2 linked regions of the Homo sapiens genome follow. The protein of the gene in region 1 purifies or fractionates together with the protein of each later gene. This does not show direct contact. Each region holds a gene or a part of one and is shown on either strand. Other genes may lie near its edges.

Evidence for each region. The genes of interacting proteins can lie anywhere in the genome.
Region 2: the proteins of RAB15 (region 1) and TOR1AIP2 purify together in Homo sapiens (affinity purification with mass spectrometry; 2 studies listed by BioGRID and IntAct, with this or other methods). This does not show direct contact.

The regions. Positions count from the first base shown.
Region 1 is NC_000014.9:64,969,320-64,976,152, forward strand, and holds the start of RAB15 (ras-related protein Rab-15), read right to left. Parts: upstream 3,018-6,833; 5' UTR 2,758-3,017; coding exon 2,634-2,757; intron 1-2,633. UniProt on the Homo sapiens protein: The small GTPases Rab are key regulators of intracellular membrane trafficking, from the formation of transport vesicles to their fusion with membranes.
Region 2 is NC_000001.11:179,839,779-179,846,806, forward strand, and holds the end of TOR1AIP2 (torsin-1A-interacting protein 2), read right to left. Parts: coding exon 6,293-7,028; 3' UTR 198-6,292; downstream 1-197. UniProt on the Homo sapiens protein: Required for endoplasmic reticulum integrity. Regulates the distribution of TOR1A between the endoplasmic reticulum and the nuclear envelope as well as induces TOR1A, TOR1B and TOR3A ATPase activity.

The DNA of each region.
Region 1 (6,833 bases):
GCCCCTTCTACCTCCTTGAGAAACTGTCCATATCACTTAAGGAAAAAGCTTTTCTTGACCATCCAACTCTTTCCTTTAAGTTTTAGTTAATGCTGAAAAACACGCCCAAGATAAGGGAGAATCCCAAGTCCCTTAATAAGCTTTAAATAAGAAAGCATTTAAGATACCCAGTGGGGCAGATTTTAAAAGGCTGGTGTGAAGAAAGACAGGTTTCTTTCTATTCCATGGAATCCAAACTCCTAGAGTCCTCTGTGTCCTGTGGAAAGGGGGACCCTAGAGAATCCTCTGTGTCCTGTAGAAAGGGGAACCCGGGTGTCAGAAGCGGAGGAAGAAATCTGGGAGCCATCTTTAGGTTTTAGGCCAATATACCAAGGGCCTTGAGGGGAGACAGTGCTGCAGAGACACCCCTACTCAGTTCACTGATTCACCTATGTGCCCAAAGTGGTCTGCCCTGGAGGGTTTCAGGAAGTCCCTGTGACCTATTTAGTGTTCACCTATTAGCAGAAGGTGTCTAAGAAGGGAGATTACAAGGGGAAGGGACAAGGAGAAGGGTGGATGATTAGAGGTGTGAGGCAATGGACTCTCTTTAAGGAGAGCACGAGCCTCAGAGGGCCATCCTGGTATTTTAGAAAGAGGGGTGCCCTCAAAAAGGAGGGTATGTGTCTCCCAGGGGAGGCTGCCTCCCACAGCACTAAGCAGGAGTCCCAGAGCTTCTGAAATGAGGTGGTTGAATGAAGCCCTCAAAGGGAAAAGTCCATGTCACCTATAGGACTTGGAATGGGACTAGGAGAGCAGGTGCAAACAACAGCTCTTCAGGCCAAAGCCAGGGCCTCCCAGGCAGCCCACAGCTCTCTGGAGATAGCTCAGTAGTTCCAAGCACCAGGCCTCTCCCAAAAATAGCCACTCCTAGTTTCCTTAAGGGATAACCCACCGCCCTTTGTCCCTGAGCCCACAACCTGTCCTCATACACCATCTGGTTCCTCTGCCACTTCCTCCATCACGCCCATGCCTTTCTCCTGCACCTGCCTCTTCCCCAAGTCCTCCCGGCAGGCACAAAGCCTTAGTGTCTATAGGCTCCCCTTCTTTCTGCAATGTCTCTCATCCAAACCATGGCTCAGCCCAAGCTCCTGGGTTTCCTAAGAGTTGGCCTTACAGCTCCTCTGAGAAAGACGGACAAGTTCTGTTCCCTGACCCTAAGTCCTGTTGTTTCACCCTTCAAGTTGGTGAAACAAAGAGAGGAGACCCTAAAAGCTCAATGATAATGGCAATAGCAGTAAGAACAATCAGCATTTATCGAGCTTCACCATGTGTCTGGCTGTGCTAAGCACTTAACAATCGTTATCTCATTTAATCTTGACAACAACTTGGCAGGTAGGTGCAATTATTATACCCGTTCTACAGATGAGAAACTAAATAAAGCTCAGAAGTTTAGGCAATATTCAAGGTTGCTTTGCCCCACAGTGAGGTCTCAGGTCTCTTGGACAATAAAGCTGGCTTCTTAACCAGAAGGTTCTGTTCCTCCTGGCTGTATCTATCTGCTCCTACTTCTCTCTCAGCAAGGAATGTGTGTTGGGGGGAGGGGGGATGGTGTGGACATGAATCCTCAAGAGGAAGCTGAGAGCTGGTGCCCATCCCTGATGGCAGCAGGGACTTCTAGGAGAGCATTCCAAATGGATGACCAGCCAGCCAGCAGGTGTTTCCAGGGGCCTGGGCAATGCAGAGGCTACTCCAGGGCTGACCCGGGTAGCAGCTGAGGATGAAATTCCCTCTACTCAGACTTCTCAGGGAGGGGGCCCCTCACAGCCTAGAAGCGGGAGACTGACTGTCTCAGAGGGGAGGCCATGGACCCATTCCTAGAATAAGTGACCCCATCATAGTGCTGTCTGGGATGCCACCGGGTCTTGTCCCTCTAACCACAGGCTCCAGCACTGCCAGATGAGAGATGCCCTCAGGCGGGTCCTGCCTGCCTTCTGACCCCTTGGTCTGGGCAGGTATTCCTGACACTCCTCCATCCTCTTTAGCCTCCCTCAGAACAGATGTCTCCTCTTCCCAGGCGCAGGGGCTCCTCACCCTATCTGTGTCCTCCCCCAGGTGTCCCACCTTGCGGCTTACCTTCCCAACTCTGCCCTGGAAACTCGATCCCTGTGGCCCCTCCGTACGTCCTCTCTTCCCCCCCTCGCCCCCCGCCGGCTCCACCTTGGGTCACCACAGAACCAAGGGCGCCTCAGTGACTCCGGTCTCCACCCTGACCCCCTTTTCCGTAGCAGAAGCTTTACTTCCCCTCCCCCTGGGGGTGTGGGGATGTTATTCCAGCGGCTACGATTCTTGCTACCCCAGCTCGGGGTACCCAGGCCTACACCAGCTCCCCTCACCCCCGGTTTCTCGGTTTGATGGGACGGAAGGCTTCCCGGCAAGAGGCGGGAGACCCCACCCCTGGTCCGGACGGCAGGCAGCAGGGACACCCTCACCTGCCAAAACCTATGCTCACCCCGAGATTTATCCCGGACTCCGGCCTCCGGCGCCACCGCCTCCAGCCGGAGGGGCTGGCAATTCCTCCCCAGCTGGGGACGGGGGCGGCGGGGAAAGGGGCCGCGGGCGGGGAGGGAGGGGCGCCCCGGGCCACCGCCCCTTACCGATGGTGGAGATGTGCGAGGAGTGGAACTCGTTGTCGGTGAAGCGGCACAGCAGGCAGGTCTTGCCCACCCCGGAGTCCCCGATCAGCAGCAGCCGGAACAGCACATCGTACTGCTTCGCCATGACTGGGGCCAGCGGGGCCGGGAACTGCGGGCGGGCAGCGGGCTCAGCCCTGCTCCGCCGCTGCCATCGCGGCCCGCGCCCGCCCGGGGACGCTGCGGGCGGCGAGGAGGACGCCGGGCCCGGCCCCCGCGGCTGCCTCGCCCGCCCGCCTGCCCACTCGCTCGCTGGGTGCCGGGAAGCGCGGCTGCGGCGGGAGCCCGGCGCGGCGCCCGCTCGGCTCGGCTCGGCTCGGCTGGGCTGGCGCGAGGCGGTGGGAGGAGAAACCGGCGGCGGCCCCTGCCCGCCCCTTCCCCTGCGCCGCCGCCGCCGCCCCGGAGAGAGGGGGCGGGGAGCGCGCGCAGGAGAGCGGGACCCCATCGAGCAGGCGACGCTGGGGCGGGGCGCCAGCCCCCCCTCCCAACCCCTTCCTGCCCGGGGCGGGGGAACGTTTTCGTTTTTCCGCGGACGCTCCGAATGGGGGAGTTGAGGTGAGCCCCCACCCAGCCCACTTCTACCGTGCTCCGCTTTCCGGGCTCACCACTTCTCCCCATATCCCACCCCAAGTCTGGCGCCGGTAATTCCGCCCGCCGTGGCACCCTGCATCTGCAGGATCTGGCCGGGCTCCCCAGTGGCTGGTACCTCAGCTGGGCTCACCCGAGGTAGGAAGGCCTTGAGCAGGATCTGGATTCGAACACCCGTCTCCATGAGTCCCCGAGAGTGTGGGTGGAATTCCCCCTCCCTGCCATCTGGCTGCCCCTTACCTGTGTGACTGTGTCACGGCCCTCCCCCGTCCCCATTTTTTCTTTAAATGGGGAAAATGCCTATTCACGGCCTCCACCAGGGTGAAAAGATAGATGGCCATAAGAACATCTCCAAGTGCAAAATCCTTTAGAGGTGTGCGGGCAAGTCTCCGTTTTCCCTCTAAGGTGCTTAGGATAGGTGCCCAGGTGACCAATGTATTGTTTCAGACCCCTAAATTTCTCTGTGGTATAGCCAGTGGCACCAAAGAATGAATGGCCCTTGTTCAAGATCCAGTTTCCTACCACTGAATGTGTTAGCACCGGAGAGAGGCAAATGAATGCTCTCCGGAGTTGAGAAAATTGCCTATCCCTACCAACGAGTATTGAGGGAGAGCAAAGTCTAGCCTATTAGGTCTTTAAAAAGCAATGAAAGGCTAGGCGCGTTGGCTCATGCCTGTAATCCCAGTACTTTGGGAGGCTGAGGCGGGCAGATCACTTTGAGGTCAGGAGCTGGAGACCAGCCTGGCCAATGTAGTGAAACCCAGTCTCTACTAAAAATAAAAAAAAATTAGCTGGGCACGGTGGCTCGCCTGTAATCCCAGGCTTGAGAGGCTGAGGTGGGAGGATTGCTTGAACCCATTAGGGGAAGGCTGCAGTGAGCCGAGATCATGACACTGCACTCCAGCCTGCGCAACAGAGGGAGACCTTGTCTCAAAAAAAAAAAAAAAAAAGCAATGAAAAGTATATATGTACATACCTGTTTTCAGGCTGAATATTGGATGGAGAATGTATTTTTCAATAGTAGGTCAAGGAAAGTGGTAAGCCCATTTACTTCATTTGAAAAGGTATATTTCAGGTTAAGTGTCTGAATTATAATAAGAGGGGAAAAGTTCAAGACCAGCCTGGCCAACATGGTGAAACCCCATCTCTACTAAAAATATAAAAAAATTAGCTGGGCGTGGTGGCCGGTGCCTGTAATCCCAGCTACTCGGGAGGCTGAGGCAGGAGAATTGCTTGAACCTGAGAGGCGAAGGTTGCGGTGAGCCGAGATTGCGCCATTGCACTCCAGCCTGGGCAACAAGAGCAAAACTCTGTCTCAAAAAAAAAAAAAAAAAAAAGCCGGGGGGCGAAATCCCGAGCCTGCTAGCTACTCTGATTACACAGAAAGCTAAAGGAACTGATGTAGTGGATTCCATTATTTCGAGGTGCGCGTCTCCACAGTGGGCTTACATGGGGTTTCAGGTGCATGCCAAGGGCTCTGGAGTAAGGCACACTTGGGTTCCAGTCCCAGTGTCACCACTCACCAGCTGTGCAATCTTGAGCACATTACTGAACCCCCCTGTGACTCAGTTTCCTCATCTCAAAATAGGATATTTAGAGTGACTACCTTACAGGATTGCTGGAAAGATGAAATAAGATAATGCATGGAAAGGACAGGCCGTCGCGGTAGCTCACGCCTGTAATCCCAGCACTTTGGGAGGCCGAGGCGGGCGGATCACGAGGTCAGGAGACCATCCTGGCTAACATGGTGAAACCCCGTCTCTACTAAAAATACAAAAAATTAGCCCGGCGTGGTGGCGGGCGCCTGTAGTCCCAGCTACTTGGGAGGCTGAGGCAGGAGAATGGCGTGAACCCGGGAGGCGGAGCTTGCAGTAAGCCGAGATCACGCCACTGCACTCCAGCATGGGTGACAGAGCGAGACTCCGTCAGAAAAAAGAAAAAAAAAGAAAGGACAGCATAACACTTGACCCAGCACTCAATAAAGCAGAGGTGCAGAAAACACCCTGTAATGTTTCCCCTGTGCATCCCGGGTGGTAAGAATATCCCACAGATGAATATGGCCAGGGATGTTTTCTAGGAACCGAGGCCCAACCTGCTGTGATTTTCCTCCCACGACCACCAGAGTACCGAGCGCAGATCCAACCCAGCCTGACCCCCTTTGGGCACCGCAGCTGCCTTCCCATTGATCGGCACTGTAATGGTAAATAGCTCTCTGCAGGCCTCCTCACTGGGACCTTTAGTGGCTCTCTGCTTGCTTCTGTCTGAGAAAACAGGAAAGAAAATGCAAGCTGACGTGGATTCCTCACTTCATTTTGAAAGAAATGGCTTTCCCTAGGCAAGACAGGAAAGGGAATGAGGTTTGCTGAAGGAATCCAGAGAAATAAATGTTCATACTCATAAAAAATTGAGCATATGTAGTCATACTGGACTGACCTCAAATTCAGTAGCTTACATTGCTTTAGAAAAAAAAAAAAATGGCTGGGCGCGGTGGCTAACCCCTGTAATCCCAGCACTTTGGGAGGCCGAGGTGGTCAGATCACCTGAGGTCAGGAGTTCGAGACCAGCCTGGCCAACAGGGTAAAACCCCATCTCCACTAATAATGCAAAAATTAGCTGGGCATGGTGGCGCACGCCTGTAATCCCAGCTACTCCGGAGGCTGAGGCAGGAGAATCGCTTGAACCCGGGAAGCAAAGGTTGCAGTGAGCCAAGATCCTGCCATTGCACTCCAACCTGGGCGACAAGAGTGAAACTCTGTCTCAAAAAAAAAAAAAAAAAAAAAAAAAAAAAGGAGTGTATGTAGTCATACTGGACTGACCTCAAATTCAGTAGCTTACATTGCTTTAGAAAAAAAAAAAGACCAGGCGAGGTGGTTCATGCCTGTAATCCCAGCACTTTGGGAGGCCAAGGTAGATGGATCACCTGAGGTCAGGAGTTTGAGACCAGCCTGGCCAACATGGTGAAACCCCATCTCTACTGGAAATACAAAAATTAGCCAGGCCTAGTGGTGGGCGCCTGTTATCCCAGCTACTCGGGAGGCTGAGCCAGGAGAATCGCTTGAACCCAGGAAGTGGAGGTTGCAGTGAGCCGAGATCGTGCCACTGCACTCCAGCCTGGGCGACGGAGCAAGACTCTGTCTCAAAAAAAAAAGAAAAGAAAAGGCCGGGCGCGGTGGCTCACGCCTATAATCCCAGCACTTTGAAAGGCCAAGGTGGGCAGATCACAAGGTCAGGAGTTCGAGACCAGCCTGACCAACATGGAACCCTGTCTGTACTAAAAATACAAAAATTAGCTGGGCGTGGTGGCACGTGCCTGTAATCCCAGCTACTCAGGAGGCTGAGGCAGGAGACTCACTTGAACCTGGGAGGTGGAGATTGCAGTGAGCTGAGATCACACCACTGCACTCCAGCCTGGGCAACAGAGCAAGCAAGACTGTCTCAAAAAAAAAAAAAAAAAAAAAAAAAGAGATGGGGAATAGTTTAGAAACCAAAACCCAAGCTTCAAATATTCATCCTCATCCTCATCTGTGTTCAGCCACTTTCAGAGCCATCATACAGATCTCTCTGTGTGTCTATGTG
Region 2 (7,028 bases), on another chromosome or scaffold:
TTCTAGGCAGGGTCTGCCCTATACCATTTCACTGATGGCCACAAAATGCCACCTGACAACCCTCACAGGATTCTCTAGCTCCTCAGCTTACTGCCATATGAGGGCAGTTTCCTTTCCCACCATTAATCACCACATGCCCATTTCTATAAACCTGCTATTTTGGGAAATTTAATCAAGAATCAGTCCGCTGAAAAAAATTCAGATTTATTCTTTATTCTGGTAATGGCCAACTAATCTGAATAAGGCACATCATCAGCATCTATAAGAAACAAATACAAAAGCAATCCCTGTTATACAGAAAGGGAGTGCAGAGAAGTGGGACGTTAGTATTGGCAAAGCACACATATTTTTTGTTAAGCACAAATAAGCAAAATGCAATTGAGTTTGAAAGTCAGTGTGCTGTTTCTTTTATGACAGGAAAGGCAAATAGATTTAAATTTCCTGTGCTCTCTGATGAACCAGGAGCAACTGCCTGGAGCTTTGTGTTGATGCGTCCTCAGGCCTAGAAGGAACACAGAGAGTAGGGCTGTGACTGCCGGGGGCTTGGCCAACTCTGCCCCATACAATGTGACTCAGCCTGTTGCTTCCCAAGTCTAAAATGTTCTTTTTGGTTCATGTAACTGCGCTTAGCCAAAGGCAAATTTAGTTTATAAGCCTCAGTGAGGAAAAGCAGGAGACCATTTGCCAAAATAAGAACCAATTTATGGGCTTTTCAAGACATCACAGCAAGCGGGCACAGATAATGCAGATAATACTGGAAGGAAAGGTACTGAAGACTAAGGTATTTACCTTTTTGCAGATTAGGGGATACTGATTATGTTCTCAGGCCATTTGGATTGGCCTATAGAGATACAGAAGTTATAGCACAGTTTACCAAACATCGCATGTTCTCACTCATAGGTGGGAATTGAACAAAGAAAACACTTGGACACAGGGCAGGGAACATCACACACTGGGGCCTGTCAGGGGGTGGGGGGCTGGGGGAGGGATAGCATTAGGAGAAATACCTAATGTAGATGACGGGTTGATGGGTGCAGCAAACCACCATGGCACGTGTATACCTATGTTAACAAACCTGCATGTTCTCCACATGTATCCCAGAACTTAAACTATAATAATAATAATAATAATAATAATAAAGAAGTTATAGCACAGTTTATTAGCTAGAAATGAATTTTAACAGCCCTGTCTCAGTCTGAATGAGGCAAATTTAGGCCCACATCATTAGGTATTTCACAACTTAACACCTAAAATTTAACATAAATTTACAAAAATAAGGCTTATTTTAAAGTCATCTGGAGAAACTGTTTTACAGGTATCTTAACTTTATTTAGCTCTCTGTAGAATTAACATCTTTGCAAATATATTATTCAACCAAGCATTTGCCATAAAGATAAGCATCAACTTTCCCATTGGACAAGTGATAGTGTTCAAGCTACTTGACTTGTGAAAAACAAAAAACCACCATGACTTCTCAACAAATACATTTTAAAATGAAATATGCTCAGGCTGATAAACAAACAAGATATTAAAATGGAGACTGACATTGAACTACATAGTCAACTTGAAAAACACAAGAAGACAATGCTCCTATAAAATGATATATTATTGGCTTTACAAAGACATACTGGTTTATGTTTACAACTATGTTTTATTTTCAAATGGTAAAGGAAAGGCTTCATGTTGCTATTTGAAAGTACTTCTCAACTAGCCGGGCATGGTGGCATAATTCCTGAAGTAGGAGGATCATCCCCTTGAGGCCAGGAGGTCCAGGCTGCAGTGAGCTGTGATTGTGCCACTGCACCATAGCTTGGGTGACAGAGTGAGACCCTGTCTTTAAAACAAAAAGAAAGTACTTCTCTGCAAGTAAATTTTATGGATATAATCTTTATTCTGATTAAATAAATGATTACCCTAATCAGCTATTATTTATTATTTTCTATTTAACATTCATTTTTGAAGTGCCAGAGACCTGCCTATGTCGCATAAAGTTTGGTCAGATATATGCAAATGCAGTGTTGGTGAAGATCATCTGAATAATGATCACTTTCACATGCCATATTAGTTATATTTTAGTATCACTGCTCATTGTGCTTCCTCTCTTTAATAAAGTATAAATCAAGCAATTAAAAGCTGTGTAGGCCAGTCGCGGTGGCTCACGCCTGTAATCCCAGCACTTTGGGAGGCCGAGGCGGGTGGATCACTTGAGGTGAGGAGTTCGAGACCAGCCTGGTCAACGTGGGGAAACCCCGTCTCTACCAAAAATACAAAAATTAGCTGGGCGTGATGGCACGTGCCTGTAATCCAGCTACTTGGCAGGCTGAGGCAGGAGAATCGCTTGAACCTGGGAGGCAGTGGTTGCAGTGAGCCGAGATATCGCACCATTGCACCCCAGCCTGGATAACAAGAGTGAAACTCTGTCTCAAAAAAAAAAAAAGGCTGTTAAAGGGTCAAAACCATCTCAGCGGCTAGCACTATTTAGTGGAGTCACTAGCTAAGAGAATGGTGGGTTACCAGCATGCTGAGCCTTATTAACCACCATACACTTGGGGGCTTCCAAATGAAATGTATTGAAATGTCTTTATTGATTGCTTTTTAAAATAGAAATATGAAACAAATTAGCATTACTATTTTAGTGATATGAACACCTTTAGTGATATGAACTTGTCCGCCAACTCCTGGAAACTAACCAGAAAACCTAAAATTTACCCTAAGGGAAGAAAAACCTCAAGTCCAAAGACAGTTTCTGATTCTACCAATTGGTTCTACAATTCTGGGATTACTCAAGAAGTAATTTATATTAATATACAGTGTAATGAAAGTTGTTCTGTAAGAGTAACTAAATGGCAACGTTTAGGTACCACATACAATATTGTATGCCCACAAATCATTTTTCTAAGTCAAATAAGCAAATTATCTTTGACAATAAAAGACGAATTACTAGACACACAAAAGAAAATCTGAAACCTTAAAAAATGTCAATAGGCCGGGTGCGGTGGCTCACGCCTGTAATCCCAGCACTTTGGGAGGCCAAAGCGGGCGGATCACGAGGTCAGGAGATCGAGACCATCCTGGCTAACACGGTGAAACCCTGTCTCTACTAAAAATATTTTTTTAAAAATTAGCCAGGTGTCGGGGCGGGCACCTGTAGTCCCAGCTACTTGGAAGGCCGAGGCAGGAGAATGGCATGAACCCAGGAGGCGGAGCTTGCAGTGAGCCAAGATTGCACCACTGCACTCCAGCCTGGGCAACAGAGCAAGACTCCATCTCAAAAAAAAAAAAAAAAAAAAAAGTATAGAACAAATAGAAATTAACCTAATACATTAGATAATAGATTTGAATTATCTGTACATTTATAAAATATGGTCTTATGTTTAAAAATAGTCATTTTAGTCATGAGAAGACCCAGAGCTAATATACTGCTTCTTTTAAAAATGATTTTTGAGGCCAGGTGCAGTGGCTCGTGCCTATAATCCTAGCACTTTGAAAGACCAAGGCAGGCGGATCAATTGAGGCCAGGAGTTCGAGACCAACCTGGACAACATAGCAAAACCTCGTCTCTATTAAAAATACAATAATTAGCTGGGCATTGTGGTGCATGCCTGTAATCCCAGCTACTTGGGAGGCTGAGGCACAAGAATCACTTGAACCCAGGAGGTGTAGGTTACAGTGAGATGAGATTGTGCCACTGCACTGCATTCCAGCCTGGGTGACAGAGCAAGACCTTCTCTCAAAAAAAAAAAAAAAAAAAAAAGAAGTTTGGTTGGGTGCATTGGGTCACATCTGTAATCCAAACACTTTGGGACGCTGAGGTGGGAGGATCACTTGAGGCCAGGAGTTCAAGACCAGCCTAGGCAACACAGTAAGACCCTGTCTCTATACAAAATAGTGTGGTAGAGTGGTGTGGTAGTCTGCACTTGTAGTCCCGGCTACTCAGGAGGCTAAGGTGGGAGGATTGCTTGAGCCCAGGAGTTTAAAGCTACAGTGAGCTATGATCAAGCCACAGCACTGCAGCCTGGGAGTCAGAGTGAGACTCCATCTCAAAAAAAAAAAAAAAAAAAAAAGACTTTTGAAATAGCAGACAGAAAACTGACAACACCCTCAATTGATTGCACTATACATGGAAGGGAAAATGTTTTTAAAAAGGCTAAATTAAAAATTATGACTTTAGAAATTTATTTTTCTAAATTATTTTGAAGAGAAATGATGAAAAACCATATTCAACTGAATGAAGAAACAAGAATATGCGACATACTGGTTCCTTGACAGATCTGAGGTAGCACAGGTCAGCAGGCCAATATAATAGTTATACAAGGCAACACTGGTTTTGTGGATGTAACGCTAGCATCTAAGATCTAAAAAGACAGAAAAAATGTGCATATGGGATACAGATTTTCCTTCAACTTCCTCTGCTTTTATACTGGATTGACAGTGATATCACATTCACCATGCTTTAACTTTTTGTTCAGGTCTCTTCCCAAATCTCTTGGAAGCTTCCTTCGAAGTCCCAAATGCAAATTCTTCCTTCAGGTATGCCCCTACACTCAATTGAGCAATTACTCAATTGTAATCTTTTTAGGTATCAGTAAAGATCCCTGTATCTTCTTAGTGTTTCCTAAAATCTTTCCATACTTTAATCAGACTTCTTAGCTATATACATATGATCTCATATAATGGAGAGGCCAAAACCCAGTTGAAATAATCCAGGATTATGGTAATAGTCTATATAATGGAACAGACCCTTTGTTAGGTCGAGATCATTTTACTAGAGTTCTGCTTTCAGAGCTCAAATGCTAATCAACTCTATCTCCATACAAACTGTTTTCAATCTTTCTTACAATCACAGAACATGGTCCGTCAGTACTGAACATCAAAACCTCTGAGAATCTACCCACCATTTCTGCTTCCTCTCACTAAGTATAACATCTCTTAGATTTCTCTAATTTTTAACCTAATGGTACTTCTATAACTAGTTGGTCAAGAAATGAGCTGCATTACATAATGTTCCATCACTGCATAGAAATAAACTGGTAAAGTTATGCCAAATGTTCATATAAAATTTACTATTAAATTGGTTATTCAAAAATAAATTTTTAAAATAAAACAAATAAATTGGTTATTAAAATCTGTTCTGCTGAAAGAGTCTACAAACTCTTACCCTAGACAAGTATAAAATTCCATGCAGAGGGGACAGAAATGACGATTAACAGAAATGAACAAAAGCATCAGAGACATGCTAGTAAATGCTAGCTTATACATTCTGCTGTTCATGTATAGATCTTTATCCTTCATAAATAATGTATCTATACAATAAACCTGTATTTCATCTTCCTACTCATAAGATTTAATACATTCATTTTTTAAACATATTTCCTATCTTCTAAGATGTTTTTTCACTTAATCAATGGTTTTCAAACTCGAATATCAGTGAAACTCTTTGTTCCAATGAAATCTCATAGAGAACCCCAACATATAAAACAGTTAAAAGCAGAACTGCTCTGATACAAAGGGGAAGGGTGCCAGTAGACACAGTTTGAAAATCAATGCTGTAAATTGTTCAAGAAAAGCTGAAGTAAAGATATAGCCAATTGGAATTTCTTCATTTCCAATGATTATAAACAATTTCCCCACTGGTTCTCATTTTTAAGAACATTTGAGTACAGCTGCTTATACCTCAGCTGAATGAAATAAAAGCACAGTGCCTTACATGTAGTATTTAGGTAGGTACTTAATGGTTTGAATTCTTATTTCTTTTATCATACTACTCAAAACTGCAAAATTAATATAAGATATAATCCCGTAACTTTAGATTATTAAAGTAAGGTTTGAAAATATTCAACATGTGATAGAAAAATTTTCTAAAGGTTATCATTGCTTCATAATTCTAATTGCTTTAGTCCAAGTCCAAACATTATCGAAAAGGTTCTTCAGAGTCTCACTCAAGAAAAAAAAAAAATCACTCTGTAGTTACTCTAAGAAGTAAGAGTATCTTCCTGTGCAATGTTGCTATATTTTAGAATTTAAAAAAAATTCTCATATATATCATCGATATTTCAAACCTGATTTGGTCCAAAGAAAAAAAGTCAGGTTAATTTTTAGCTTTGTCAAGGCTTAGATTAGAAAGATTTTACAAGGAATAAAAAATAAAAACTTGTTTCTAAAATAAGCTCATCTTTGTTTTTCAGGCTATTTCCTCAAGCTATTTTATCAACCTCCTTCCATATAAATGGAAGGTCTTTAAACAAACTTTTTCATAAACATATACCTTCTGTAACCAACTCTGTGCTTAGCTTTAGAAAAGGCACCCCTGTTCTTCTATGCTACTCACTGGCTGGACTGGCAGTACCAGGTGTGAAATTCGGCTCCACAGCCCACTCAATTTGTCTGAGTCCATGTGGTTGAAGGAGGTGGGAGTGTCAGAGTTGGTAAACTTGGCCCAGAGTAAGTCTCTCACTTTTTCTTCCGTTTCCCTTGGGCCTACACTTGCTTCTAATGTTTCCTCCTCTAGCAGAACAGTCAGGACCAGGGCCACATCTTTAAAGGCAGCATTCTCATGATCACAATACTTATAGAAGATCAAAGTGGAGCCGGCAGGGAAGGATTCGAAGTGGTGTACCACAGCAGCCTTCTGGCCATTCTCAAACCCATAGCTCAGCTCCAGGTCAACCAACAGCTTGACCGTGTCACTGTCCTGCCAGGTCCTTCCAGCCCCATCAATCTGAATGGGAGAGACTTTCTGGGAAGAGGTGTAGGCATCTGCAACATGGTGGCTCAGGCACTTCAGGGTCTCTCTTCCCTCCCGAGCTGCTGTAAATATGATGGTGGCTGGCTCAGTGGGGTTGGAAGCATTGAGGTGCTTCTGGAGAAACTTCCGTCCTCTCTGCCACAGGAAGGAACTCTGGCCTGGAAATTTATCTTCCAATTGGCTAAACTGGGCCAAAAAGGCCTCCAAAGCTGGATTTTTGGGCACTTGCTGGGCTGGAGAGGAATAGTAGCTATTCACAGAACTTGCCACAACAGCCACAACC